3 linked regions of the Homo sapiens genome follow. The protein of the gene in region 1 interacts with the protein of each later gene in a biochemical or structural test. Each region holds a gene or a part of one and is shown in the gene's direction. Other genes may lie near its edges.

What was found. Proteins that work in one complex are often made in the same cells at the same time.
Region 2: the proteins of LRP1 (region 1) and FCN2 form a complex in vitro, tested with the Homo sapiens proteins (one study listed by IntAct).
Region 3: the proteins of LRP1 (region 1) and LIPC form a complex in vitro, tested with the Homo sapiens proteins (one study listed by BioGRID).

What each region holds. Positions count from the first base shown.
Region 1 is NC_000012.12:57,197,546-57,201,989, forward strand, and holds part of LRP1 (prolow-density lipoprotein receptor-related protein 1 preproprotein), read left to right. Parts: coding exon 1-119; intron 120-610; coding exon 611-798; intron 799-919; coding exon 920-1,125; intron 1,126-1,666; coding exon 1,667-1,855; intron 1,856-2,331; coding exon 2,332-2,480; intron 2,481-2,896; coding exon 2,897-2,990; intron 2,991-3,153; coding exon 3,154-3,270; intron 3,271-3,488; coding exon 3,489-3,608; intron 3,609-3,951; coding exon 3,952-4,074; intron 4,075-4,234; coding exon 4,235-4,360; intron 4,361-4,444. UniProt on the Homo sapiens protein: Endocytic receptor involved in endocytosis and in phagocytosis of apoptotic cells. Required for early embryonic development. Involved in cellular lipid homeostasis.
Region 2 is NC_000009.12:134,879,074-134,884,294, forward strand, and holds the start of FCN2 (ficolin-2 isoform a precursor), read left to right. Parts: upstream 1-1,736; 5' UTR 1,737-1,748; coding exon 1,749-1,848; intron 1,849-3,452; coding exon 3,453-3,566; intron 3,567-4,228; coding exon 4,229-4,282; intron 4,283-5,221.
Region 3 is NC_000015.10:58,539,732-58,544,175, forward strand, and holds part of LIPC (hepatic triacylglycerol lipase precursor), read left to right. Parts: intron 1-2,053; coding exon 2,054-2,236; intron 2,237-2,802; coding exon 2,803-2,920; intron 2,921-4,444. UniProt on the Homo sapiens protein: Catalyzes the hydrolysis of triglycerides and phospholipids present in circulating plasma lipoproteins, including chylomicrons, intermediate density lipoproteins (IDL), low density lipoproteins (LDL) of large size and high density lipoproteins (HDL), releasing free fatty acids (FFA) and smaller lipoprotein particles.

The sequences.
Region 1 (4,444 bases):
GCCTGAACAACGCCGTTGCCTTGGATTTTGACTACCGAGAGCAGATGATCTACTGGACAGATGTGACCACCCAGGGCAGCATGATCCGAAGGATGCACCTTAACGGGAGCAATGTGCAGGTGAGGCGGGCGGCCCTCGGCGACCAACACTGGCCCGCCTCAGATGACTGTTTTCAGATCGTCTCTCCTTCCCGCCCCACCAACCCAAATTGCTTCCTTCTCACTCCACTAGTCACTATATGACTGCTTGTTCTAGCTGCTCACTCTCCTCTGGGCCCAGACAGCAAGGACTGGGAGATTCCTCTTGCCCTTCCCCTCGCTGCCAGCCTCATGTCTCCTTAATCATCAGGAAGTTCCCTGTGAGGTCTGGCCAAGCACTGTGAGGCTTGGGGCGTGGTCCCATTCACCTAGAGCCCCCTCTCCTAGAGCCTCTGCTGACACCTACACAGTGTCAGGCCCAGGACTGGGCATTTTACTTCCATGGTTCTCCCACCAGAGCTGTCAGAGGGAGCTCTACCCCATTTTACACGAGGGGAGGCTGAGCCTCACAGAGGCTTGCAGGTCCTCCCCCAGGTCACCCAGAGCTCTCCCTCCCCTGCCCCTTCCTGCAGGTCCTACACCGTACAGGCCTCAGCAACCCCGATGGGCTGGCTGTGGACTGGGTGGGTGGCAACCTGTACTGGTGCGACAAAGGCCGGGACACCATCGAGGTGTCCAAGCTCAATGGGGCCTATCGGACGGTGCTGGTCAGCTCTGGCCTCCGTGAGCCCAGGGCTCTGGTGGTGGATGTGCAGAATGGGTATGTGGCTGAGGAGGGTTGGGGGAGCCCCTGAAAGCAGCATCCAAGCCCAGCCTCCCTGCAGGCCACTGGTGCGATGGGTTACGGGATCTCCCAGGGCTCACTGCCTACCCATCGCCAGGTACCTGTACTGGACAGACTGGGGTGACCATTCACTGATCGGCCGCATCGGCATGGATGGGTCCAGCCGCAGCGTCATCGTGGACACCAAGATCACATGGCCCAATGGCCTGACGCTGGACTATGTCACTGAGCGCATCTACTGGGCCGACGCCCGCGAGGACTACATTGAATTTGCCAGCCTGGATGGCTCCAATCGCCACGTTGGTCAGTGTGCCAGTGAGGCTGTCCAGGCACAGCAGACTCAGTGGGGATGGAGGTCTGAAGCGACAGGGGATCAAGTTTTGGGGGCAAGAGTGGACATAAAAAGCGGAGGATATGGCCTGAGGACACCACTCACTGGGGTGTGGGGTTCAGAGCACCCCGGGGGCTTCCCCAGCCTGGCCACCACCCAGCTCCCTTGGGAAGGAAGAGGAGAGGCCCTTCCCTTGTATACACAGTTCTGGAGGACTGGCCCCAAGGAGGGTGGGGGTGGGAGGCCTGCGATTGAGAACTGCAGTGCTCCCCACTTCCCGAGGGGAGCCATACACTGGCAGGGCAGGAACTTGCCATGAGGCAGTCTAGGTTTGAACTCCAGCTCTGACACTTGTTAGCTGTGAGACCATGGGGGGTCTGTACCATGAACCATCTGTAACTGGGGCTGACACCCACCTCTCAGGGTGGTGGTAGGGCTTGAGGAGGTGGAGTGGGCCGGCACCCTGTCCGAGCTCCGGCTGACTGGCACTGTGCCTGCCCCTTGGCCCTGCAGTGCTGAGCCAGGACATCCCGCACATCTTTGCACTGACCCTGTTTGAGGACTACGTCTACTGGACCGACTGGGAAACAAAGTCCATTAACCGAGCCCACAAGACCACGGGCACCAACAAAACGCTCCTCATCAGCACGCTGCACCGGCCCATGGACCTGCATGTCTTCCATGCCCTGCGCCAGCCAGACGGTGAGCAGGCAAGGGGTGGGAGCAGGCGAACGGTGAGCCAGGCACCGGGGTCCCTGGGAGTTCCTGCTCATCCCTTCTCTAGCATTGACCAAGCCCTCCTGGCCAGACACTGGGAGACTCCAGGAGGGTCTAGACAGGGGATGGTCTGGCTCCCGGGAGCTTCAGCCCGGCCTGGATCCAGCCCTGGAGTCTGGCAGCAGCAAGTCCCTGAGGCCAGTCAAGTGGGGGTCTGGGTGCCCAGCCCCCAGAAGGAAGGCAGGCCGGCCCCTGGGAGGGAAGCACAGAGGAGGTGGGGAGCTGGCCTTCAGGCCTGGCCTGATCCTGGGACCTTAGAATCCTCTCCTATCTCCAGCTTCAGCTCCCTCCTAAAAGAGGCAGGGTTCAGACCCACCCGCCTCTGTCCAGGATAGAGTGAGTGAGGCAGCCTTTGGTAGGCCAGAAAATGTCACCATATTTCACGACGTTTTCTCTGGCAGTGCCCAATCACCCCTGCAAGGTCAACAATGGTGGCTGCAGCAACCTGTGCCTGCTGTCCCCCGGGGGAGGGCACAAATGTGCCTGCCCCACCAACTTCTACCTGGGCAGCGATGGGCGCACCTGTGTGTCCAACTGCACGGCTAGCCAGGTGAGGCTGTCCCCCAGACCCCATCACCAGTGCCCGCTCCCCAACCCCCAAATCCTCCTTGGACCCCAACACCTGCTCTGTCCTAATGTCCTCATGCATCTGGTTTTCCCACACTAACACCCCCACATTTCTTGCCTACCTCTTGTCTCCCCACAGCAATACTTTTACCCCCGTCACCTCACACAGACACCTCCACACCCTAACCTTGACCCTCCTTGCCATGCTTCAGTGCTGCCTTCCCCACCCTATCCCACGCAGCCCCATACCTGGCCTTTCCGAACTCACCATAGCCCAACCTGCCCCATAACACCCTGACCCCTGCCTCAACTTCTTTGAAACATCCAAGCCCCTCAAAAGAAAGACTTCTGAGTCCCCCAGACCCCCACCAACCCCTCTTGCCCCCACCTGCCCTCCAGTTTGTATGCAAGAACGACAAGTGCATCCCCTTCTGGTGGAAGTGTGACACCGAGGACGACTGCGGGGACCACTCAGACGAGCCCCCGGACTGCCGTGAGTGCCTGCTGGGGGTGACAGGAGGGCCCCCAGCTGTGTCGGAGGCCTGACTCCTGAGGCTTTGAATGGCCACTGGAGAGGCTGGGGCTGTGGTGCCCTGCAAGTGGACCTGGCCGTGTCCACCCCAGCCGCTCTGACTCTGAGCCTCCCTCTCTGGCAGCTGAGTTCAAGTGCCGGCCCGGACAGTTCCAGTGCTCCACAGGTATCTGCACAAACCCTGCCTTCATCTGCGATGGCGACAATGACTGCCAGGACAACAGTGACGAGGCCAACTGTGGTAAGGCGCTGCCCGCCCACCCTCCCTCCTTCCCCAGCATCTTCCCTGCCCCAGGATTTGGGGCTTTCAAGTGCAGGGAAGTTGCAGCCCACGGCAGCTTGCTCTCCAGGCTGGATTCCTATGGCTCAAGCCTGTGTCCTCCCTGCTGAGGGATGGGCACCCTCTCCCTGCCCCTGAGTCCTCCCTTCGCCACGAATCACCTCCTCCTCCCTCCACAGACATCCACGTCTGCTTGCCCAGTCAGTTCAAATGCACCAACACCAACCGCTGTATTCCCGGCATCTTCCGCTGCAATGGGCAGGACAACTGCGGAGATGGGGAGGATGAGAGGGACTGCCGTGAGTGTCAGAGGTGGTGGTGGGCCGGTGGTGGGAGATGACACGGAAGCAGGGCAGGCAGAATCTCCCCACAGCTTTGAGAGGCTCTCAAATAACTTTAGTAGATGGGCAACACAAATTATATTGGGTGTAACTTGCTTTGCTCATAAAAATCATCATGCATGATATAGAGACATAGAGATCCAGAAAACAAAAAGCACCAAAACTGGGGATAAACTGTTCCTTCCTCCGAAGAAGTTGCTGGCAGGACCAAGGCCAGGGCTTGGAAGAGAGAGAAGACAGTGATGGTGAACTGGAGTGGCAGGTGTAAGGGAGGGCCCTCATTCTCTTGCCCACCCCACAGCCGAGGTGACCTGCGCCCCCAACCAGTTCCAGTGCTCCATTACCAAACGGTGCATCCCCCGGGTCTGGGTCTGCGACCGGGACAATGACTGTGTGGATGGCAGTGATGAGCCCGCCAACTGCAGTGAGTTGCCTGGCCTGGAGCCCAGCTTCCCTCCCCAGTGTCTGCTGCTCACACCACCCCGACGTGTGACCCCCTCAGTGGCTGCTCCCTCACTCTCCCCACCCTCCCGGCACACTCCTGGAAGGAGTCTCATCCTCACCCCATGCCCACCCGCTTGCAGCCCAGATGACCTGTGGTGTGGACGAGTTCCGCTGCAAGGATTCGGGCCGCTGCATCCCAGCGCGTTGGAAGTGTGACGGAGAGGATGACTGTGGGGATGGCTCGGATGAGCCCAAGGAAGAGTGTGGTGAGCCGAGACCCCACTCCAGGAGGAAGACAGTCTACCTGGGTGGGAGGCATGGCACCCCTGGCAGGTGGAGGGCTGGGGGCC
Region 2 (5,221 bases), on another chromosome or scaffold:
TGAATATGAACTGCTAGAAATGTAATCATTTAAATTCAGCATGTGATAAACTCAGAGTTCCAATAAAGTGATTCAATAGTTTATATGAATTCGGTAAGTTTTCCGCATAAATGCACTCTGCCAAATCAATTACTCAATTGGCCATTTTCTGTTGAAGTTATCCTGCACCCACTCCAATAGGCCAGATTCTCTTGATTATTGCAAGTACTTTAAATAGCATATTTTTTTAGATTTCTGAACACTAAAATATTAATATAATGTCTTTGGGCTTTTAAAGCCTTCTAGACTTAATTTTAAGTCATCTAGGTTTGAAAGATGCTTCTATTAGGAAGGACAAATAGCATGCAGTAAAGGAACCTGCCTAAGGACTCGGAATTTTGGCTGCTGGGGTTTCACTGGGCAGCTCTGGGGACCTGGCTCCTCTGCAGGTGACTTCAGGACTTTGAGGAAGATGCCCCCAAGCCATCTTTCTAGGTTCCATATCTGCATCTCCATGGAGCCTGTGTCTTCCCCAGGTTCATCCCTGGACCTCATCTGCATCTGGCATAGCCTTAATTAAGTCTTGAGAGGTCTGCCCTAAACACCACGGAACCCGAGGGGGGTCTTAACTAGTCATAGTCTCAGGACCACACATCTCCATGGGCATTGAAGGAAAATCCGATGGGATTTTGTTTCTCGCGTGGCTTTGCTGGGCTGGGGTCACAGTTTAAAATCCTTCTACTGATCTTGCCAAGGAAGAAGGCACCTCGGCATCCCGATGGCAGCAGGTGGCAGGGTGCGGTGGTGGTAGTGGGAGGTGCAGTGCTGGTTCCGTCTCTGGGGGCTTTAGGTATACGGCCTCTGGGGCCCCACCTGCTACTGTCTCTGTCTCTAACCTGGCTCAGTCCAAGGCGAGAGTGCACCTTCAGGCCAGCTCTTCTCCAAAAGGCGAACACAACCACTGAAGTAAGTCCACAGCCATCCTACAGGTGGGATGTCTGGCCTCAGGGCTCAGGGGGTTCCCTGGGCCCTAGGAGTGAAATTCACCTACTCTCATCCTCCCTACAGGCTAAGCCCCTGCATTCACACTCAAGGTCTCCCCTTCAGATGTGTACCTGGGTCATAGTCCCCCAGGCTCCCCACTCTTCTCTCCTTTCCCTCCTGTTCATGTGCCCCTGTGCTCTACATACTGCCCCAGGAAACAGTGGACACACACGCATTTTCCTCTCCTTTTCACCCTGGCAGCCTGCCTGGACCTCATAGTGGCAGTTTCCAAGCCTCCTGAGGAGAGTCCCAAGTCTGCTCATGATGTGGTGAGGGTTACTGTGTAAGGCCCACACCAGTGGCCCATGACCAGCCCTGGCCATGAGGACTCTAGGTATTCGGATAAGGGAGAGAGACCTCTTTGAAGCAGAACATCTTTAGCAAACCCTTCCTTGTTCCCCGTTCTCAGCTCATGGTGACATCTGCTCACCGCTGAACAAAGGTGGGAGGATGGGCCTGGGCTCTTTGCCCAAGGCCACAAGCAAGTCAGCCTGTTCCCTGGAAGGAGACCGTCCCCCTGCAGGGATGACAGTCGCCATGGGATCCCCAAGGGGCGGGGGGTAGGGAGCAGCCCTGGAGATGATCTCGCACCTCCTGCTGGCGTCACCAAGCCCGCGGAGAGGAAGCGGCTGTCACTCGGAAGATGAGAAATTGGAGTCTGAGGGAGGCTGGCTTCTCTAGCCCTATAAGAGGGCAGGCACCTTTTGAAGCAAAGACCAGAAGAGATGGAGCTGGACAGAGCTGTGGGGGTCCTGGGCGCTGCCACCCTGCTGCTCTCTTTCCTGGGCATGGCCTGGGCTCTCCAGGCGGCAGACACCTGTCCAGGTAAGGGCACTCCAGGGCCTCCTCCTGGAAACTTCTCGTCCCTGAAAGCTGGCAGCTTCGTGATTGGTGGCTTCCTGGCTTCCAGGCCTTGCACCAGGCCGTGTGGAGCATCGTCTAACGAGACAGCAGCTCTGCATGCCTCATCTTATGTGAACAAACGCAGAGGCCCCGAATGGATGTGGCATCTCAGAGACGGAGCTTCCTCTGCTTGCCCTCCCATAATGGAAACCGAGGCAGGTTTCCAGTCTCCCTGGGCCACATGTCCCCCTCTAAGCGTAAAAAGCGTAGTCATGGTGTTGTGTGGGGAGGTGAGGCTTGTGGTGCCAGCTGGGTAGACACCAGTCAGATATTCTGCCATGGTCGCCATCACAGAGAGACAGGGTGTGAGGTGGGGATAAGCACCCGGAAAGACAGGGTGTCAGGCGGGGATGAGCACTGCAGGACCTTTCCATCCAGGACCTGCTGGGCTCTGGAGATGGCAGTTCCCATGGTGTCCCTGATGCGGCACAATAAGGGTGGCATTGTCCCCGTGAGTTCTGGACCTCCTTCGGGGCTCCCGAGGGGACACTCGGGTGCCAAACCATGGGCTCCGGCGCATGCGAGGGCAGGTTGAAAATGCAGGTTCTGGAGTCAGGTCCTGACTCCGTCTACCCGGGGCTGGGATGCAGGGTCAGGAATTTGTGATGCTCCTGATGCTTGCAGAGATTCGTGTCAGGATTTCTGGAATGCATGTGAGACACAGAGCTCTGCGGTGTGCTGTGACTAGCATCGCATTCAAGGAGCAATCCGTGGCGTGAAGTGTGACACAGGCCAGGAACAGCGGGGATTCGCTTGGAAACTCCTAGTGGCTCGTTGTGGAGTGGTGGGGTTAGGGTGGCATTATTTTCTTCCTTAAATACTTCTAGAGTTTCTAAATGATCAAATAATAGCACGTGTTATTTTTGTAACACACTCACTTGAATTTGAGTTATCTAATTAAAAACAACAAGCTGCATTCCAGCTCTAGTTTCGCACCAACTTGTTCAGTGTCCTTGAAGGACGCCTCCCTCTGTGGAGGAACAAGGTGGACCCACAGGAGCCCATCCACTCTCAGATCTGCTCCAAGATCAGGCGTGGGAGTTGCAATGGTAGCCTCTCTCCCTGTGTCCTTCTCACCCGATATTGATTACAATGATATGATAGATGAGAACAGACGAGATTAGGATGCTGTCTTAAATGGTAGGAGCTGAAATGAACCTGCACCCCTCGGTAGGTAAGGGAACAGAGGCTCAGAGGGGTTAAGGGACTTGTTTCAGGACACACAGTACTGAGGAAGTAAGGTTTGCCTTCAGGCAGGGTAGCCTCCAAGGCCAGGGTTCTGCCCCAAATCACCTTTCTGCCTGACCAGTGCCCAAGAGGTGAGGACAGACCAAGTGCCCACCAGGGCAGGAAAACCTCCCTTCCAGGTGACCCTCCAGCTGAGGGAGGTGGCTGTGGCTATAGCCATCTGCCCAGTCCTGATGTCACCAAGATGGCAGATGCCTTTCAGTTGAGTGGTATATCTATGGCTCAGTGGAGTCTTCAGGCCCAGGTGACACTGAGTGGCCACCTGTGTTTTTCTGCAGAGGTGAAGATGGTGGGCCTGGAGGGCTCTGACAAGCTCACCATTCTCCGAGGCTGTCCGGGGCTGCCTGGGGCCCCTGGGCCCAAGGGAGAGGCAGGCACCAATGGAAAGAGAGGTAGGTGCAGGCATGGCTGGGGGCACTGGCTCTTGCTCTTTTTGAAACCAGATGCTGAGTTGGGCAACACCCCCACCATGGTTCCTAGATCGAGAGCTGGGTCAGGCCCCTGCAAGAGCCAGGAAAAGAACTGACTCCCAGGGCCCAACAGGGTTCTGACATGGAGGGAGCGTCTTTCTTAGCTATTTCATGAGCTCACATTTGGACATGCTTCTGTAGCTCTGTCTCCTAGTCCTTGATCCAATACCAGCTTTGCTCGGCCGCTGGCACGACTTCAAGCTCTGTGTCCCTCCACCTTCCCACCTCAACACGGAGGCCATGACACTCTTCTCCACCTGTCTCAGATGAGGAAACTGAGGCTCAGAGAGTCCAGGGATTTCGCTCTGTTCTCACACTTGGAAGGAAAAGAGCCGAGATTCTACCCATGGTCTCTGGATTTCCAGCTCCCGGCCCCTGAGTGAACAGGAGAGCCCCGTGAGGCCTGGGTCCTGGATCTAGAACCTTCTGGTGCAGGATGGGCAAGCCTGGGCGGGGCCACAGTCACGTCGTAGCACGAGCAGGGTCATGGTCATGATTGGAAATGACAGCCGCCAGCTCCAGGGTGGGCCCTTTGATCCTGGGCTGGGCAGTTTTCCTCAAGTCAGTGTCTTTGGAAATTGCAGGAGAACGTGGCCCCCCTGGACCTCCTGGGAAGGCAGGACCACCTGGGCCCAACGGTAAGGAGGGGACAAGAGTGAGAAGCGGCTTCAAGGCCCTTCCAGACCTGGCTGCAGAGGAACGTGAGGCGGGTCTTCTGGGGCTGCCACGCTGTCCTCGCCAGAGCCAACGCCTGCCCAGGCAGGGCTCTTGGGGCTTAGTCCAGGGCAGGGGTCTCAGTGTGGGGGAAGGGGTCTCAATGTGTGTGTGGGTTCTCAGTCTGGGGGAGTGGGGTTATCAGTGTGGGAGCTGGTCTCAATGTGTGTAGGGGGTCTCAGTTTGGGGGAGTGGGGTCATCAGTGTGGGGGCAGGGTTCTCAATGTCGGAGGAGGGGTTCTTGGTGGTGTAGGGAGAGGTTCTTGGGGTGTGTGTTGGGGGAGGGGTTCCCGGTGGGCAGGCTGTGGGGAGGTGTTATCAGCAGGGAGGGAGGAGCTGTCAATATGGGGGAGAGATTCTGGGATGGGGGAGAGGTTCTGATTATTCGGGGAGGGACTTTTAGTGTGGGGAGGGGTTCTTAGTGGGGGGGCTGTCTGTATGGGGGGGTTCTCAGGTAGGGGAAGGTTTTCAGTGCAGGAGCATCTGCCCTGTGGGTGGGCCTGAGACCAAATCCTGTCCCTCTAATGTGGAAGTGGTCTTGAGAGGGTGGGGGGGGATTGTCTGCCCACCTCTCTAAGCCTCACTCAGTCCTGGCCTCTGTCCCCTGAGCATGAGGCCCTGTCTTGTCCCCTCCTCCTGACTCTGCTTGAAAACCAGGATCAGCCCCGGATGGCTTGGAGAACCATGCCAACAAGTTCCAAACACAGAATTAGTGGAAATTCTCTGCTTTAAAACAAAGAATTTTCTGATATATTTTCTTGAGGAATAAATTTTGAGGAATCGGAGAAATACGCAGTAGGAAATTGAAGCTCCCTTTACTCACTCACCTTTACCCACAGACCTACTCAGAATAAGACCACCCT
Region 3 (4,444 bases), on another chromosome or scaffold:
ATCTAACTGCTTGTATTAATAGCTTCCTCCACACCCCATGCACCTGCCTTCTCTCTTCTTGGTCTTGGCTTAGTCTGTGCCCTCTGCCTAGAGTGTTCTTTCTCCTCCTCTTTTCCTGATTAACTCCCACTTTTCCTGTAAGACACAGTCCCAAACAGGTCCTCCTGCAAGCCATTGCTGCCTTCATCCCAGCACTCCCACAGGGCATTCAGTGTCACCGGGAGTTCCCGTGTGGCCCTGAGCACTCTCCACCACTGCTCTGCAGCTCGGCTTTCTAATTGTCTGTGTTTCTCTGCTCTGCTAGGCCGTAAGCTTCTCCCTGGGAAGGATTCTGTCCTATTCTCATCTAATAGACTACTGTGGGCCACTATCCATTATGTAATCAGTGCTCCAAAATGTTTGTTAACTGAATTAAAGATCAAATGAATGAGTCTTGTTTATAAATGCAACATGAGGACCACAGGAGCCTCTTACCAGGATGCTTTTACCAAAATGCACTCTTCATTATCAAAATTCTGTCCAACCTAGTATATGTCTCCTCCTCCTATTACTGCTAATATTAATAACAACAACAACTGCAGTAACGAACATTTGTTGAGTCCTTACTATGTTCCAGACACTGCTCTAAGCGCTTTAGATCTATTAACGTATTTCTCCTTCATAACAATCCTGGAAGGAGAGCATTATTAACCCCATTTTCCAGGTGAGAAAACTGAAGCACAGAGAAAAATAACTTGCCCAAGGTTACTCAGCTAGAAACTAGGAGAGCCTAGATTTGAACCCAAGATGCTCCATGCACATAGAAGGCACTTGGTAAATATCTAGTAAAGGAATGCATCTTACCCTGGAATGGCATGACAGGCCCTCAGGGGAGCTCTCCAGCTTCACCCGCTATTGTCAAGCCTTCACCTCCTATTGTCTAGCCTTCACCTCACCAACTTTCCTCCTCTCCCCTGACATACCACACTGCCCTTTCATGATTCTGTGACTCTGCACGCACTGTTCCTTCTGCCTGGGATGCCCTAGACCTCACCACTACCACATTCACCTGCCCACCTGTATTCTTTTTGTTTCTTTGTTTTGTTTTGTTGCGATAGGGTCTCACTCTATCGCCCAGGCTGGAGGGCAGTGTGATCTCAGCTCACTGCAGACTCGACCTCCTAGGCTCAAGCCATCCTCCCACCTCAGACTCTGGAGTAGCTGGGGCTAGAGGCATGCACCATCACACCTGGCTAACTTTTGTATTTTTTGTGGAGATGGGGTTTCACCATGTTCCCCAGGCTGGTCTTAAACTCCTAGGCTCAAGCAATCCCCCTGCCTTGGCCTCCCAAAGTGCTAGGAGTACAAGCATGAGCCACCGCGCCCAGCCCCCACCCATATTCGTCTTACTGGACTCCTATTGATCCTTTAAGGCCCAGCACAAGTGTCTTTGCTCTGTAAATCCATTAGGAGTGCCCTGCAAATTGGTTCTCAAACAAGGCACACACACAGAACAATTCTCTGTAAACATTTTTTACCTCCTACTATGTCAGGCTCACAGTGCCCATCCCGCTAAGTCCAGCATAACGCAGTCTGCAGGGCAGAGCCAGTGCTATGGGTTTAGGGGTGAGGTGGGGCAGCTGCACGCAGAAGGAGGCGTACAAATGGCCCTAAGGGACAGGTCAGCTTCCAGGACCTGATTTACACATATTTCTCCACTGTTTTAAGGTTTAGAAAGTCCCTAAGAGGAAAAACATTAAGATAATTGTTCTCGGGAGGGGGCGGGGGGGAACGTTTGGAAAAATCTGGAGACATTTTTGGTTTTCAAAACCTGGGGCAGTGGGTGGGTGTTGCTGGCATCTAGTTGGTGAAGGCCAGGAATGCTGCTAAACATCGTACAATGCCCAAGACAGCCCCCACAACAAGGAATTCTCTGGCCCAAAATGTCAACTGTGCATGGCTGAGAAACGTCATAGCAAGCCCTTCCTCCAGCATTATCCAGGAGCTGGAGAAGGAAGAAGGGTGAGCGGGGAGAAAGGAAACTAGTGCGACCCTCCCTCTGTCCCCTCCTCAGGTGGACGGCGTGCTAGAAAACTGGATCTGGCAGATGGTGGCCGCGCTGAAGTCTCAGCCGGCCCAGCCAGTGAACGTGGGGCTGGTGGACTGGATCACCCTGGCCCACGACCACTACACCATCGCCGTCCGCAACACCCGCCTTGTGGGCAAGGAGGTCGCGGCTCTTCTCCGGTGGCTGGAGGTACCGACCTGCCCCATCCTTCCTTCACCTCCCTTCCCTCCTTTCCCTTCCTCTGAGAGTGAATGAATTAAGCTGGTCTCCAACAGCAGCCCAGGCAGGAGAAGCACTAATGCTCAGCTCACAGGAATGAGAAGGCACAGGACTGACACCAGACCCCAGGGCTCTCTCAGACGCCTCCCTTGAACCCCTGTTTCACAGAACCACCTTCTCCCCTCTCCTCATCCACTATTCCTCTTATGCTCACCCCCTTAGACATGCTAAGGGATACAAACACACCCTGTAAGCTATCAAGCCCCCACACAAATGAGTGGGATCACTTCTGTAGGGCATTAGTGTCCAGGGGAAGACAGGCAGGCAGGAGGCTGCAGCTACAAGGCGAGGTCACAGGTACCTGAGTCCCAGGAGAGTCAGCCAGTTGAGAGATTAGTTTCAGTTTGGAGTGTGAATAAGGCACCTCATTTCTGAGCAGGCACGAAGAACAGGGTGGGCGCCACAACACACTGGACCGCAAAAGGCTTTCATCCAGGCAGCTCTTCTCCTGCCCCCATCCCGCTGCTGTCTTCCAGGAATCTGTGCAACTCTCTCGAAGCCATGTTCACCTAATTGGGTACAGCCTGGGTGCACACGTGTCAGGATTTGCCGGCAGTTCCATCGGTGGAACGCACAAGATTGGGAGAATCACAGGTAACCATGCCTAATAACTCACACACTGATCTCCACTCCATAGGGGCATCCAACAAGGACCTGCTTTTCCAACAGGCTCATCATTAAAACACCCCAACACTTATTGTGAGGGATCAGCGCTCATGAGAGGACTTGTGACATTCTTTCAAACATGACCAATGTCATGGATTGCTGTTCCAGAGAATTCAGAGCAAATTATAGCCTCAATTCCTATTGCCTGCCCTCAAACGAATACCTCATGTTGGTGTGCCAAATGGGACTAAAAGATGGACTTTTCTAGCAAGAAAGAGTCTTATTTTTTAATCTATAATTTACAAAGTCCAATTTGGGCGAGTTAAGGAGTGAAGAATCACAGCCTTAATTTGCTGTAATTCATCAGCCACGTTAGTGCCTCCGTTTCCACATTTGTGAAACGTGTATGTTTTAGTCTGGGACCCATTTGGGTTGAGGGAGGGAGCTCTGCATCCAAAACTTCACCCCAAACTCCATACACACTCAGAAATGGCCCAAGATATCCAGGAAGGTCTGCACATGTGCGAGGAAGGCCTTCCTCCCAGGCTTCCGTGACACCAACCCCACCCTTCACACTGCCAGGCATTGGATCCAAAAACACACAGCTGGTGAGATTGTTCCCCAGTCCAAGTCTGAGGCCCACTGATACCACAGGTATAAAACCCGGGAGGCACAGGCAAGGCCTTTCTCGGTGTGGAAGCCCCAGAGTGCCCCAGCCTCTCCTCCTGCTGATCCCTTCCCATAGCTCTAGGCTTCAACGACACAAGGTTTTTCTCTACTTCACAAACACACCATGGCCTCTTGTGCCTCTGGGCCTTTGCATGCACTGTTTGCTTTGCCCACCACTCAGCCACTCAAACTCCTCCTCATCCTTCAAGACCCAGCAGGCTCAAACAATATTTCACAGGCCAAAACAAAGAGCATTTTACATGAATAACAAAGTTGTTGCGAATTTATATTTTATCAAGTGAGGACATTTTTTTTTCTTTTGAGACGGAGTTTCGCTCTTGTTGCCCAGGCTGGTGTGCAATGGCATGATGTTAACTCACCGCAACCTCTGCCTCCCGGGTTCAAGCGATTCTCCTGCCTTAGCCTCCCGAGTAGCTAAGCCACACCCAGCTAATTTTTTTGTATTTTTAGTAGATACGGGGTTTCACCATATTGGTCAGGCTGGTCTCGAACTCCCAACCTCAGGTGATCCACCATCTCGGCCTCCCAAAGTGCTGGGATTACAGACGTGAGCCACCACGGCCGGCCATGAGGACATTTTTACAAACAACTACTATCTGCTATTACCATTCCTTTATAAAAGAATTTCTTTTAACTTGAGAAAGAATGGGGATAATGGCAGACGTTTCAACAGAATACACTTGTGATTATGACAGCTCATTTCCTCATGCTTTTTTGTTCATCTTGCTGGTCACTGGGGAAGCCTGGTCACAGACCGGCGTGTGGCCCCCATGGATTTAACCCACAATAGCCTGGGGATGAGCAGCCCTCCCACTGAAGAAG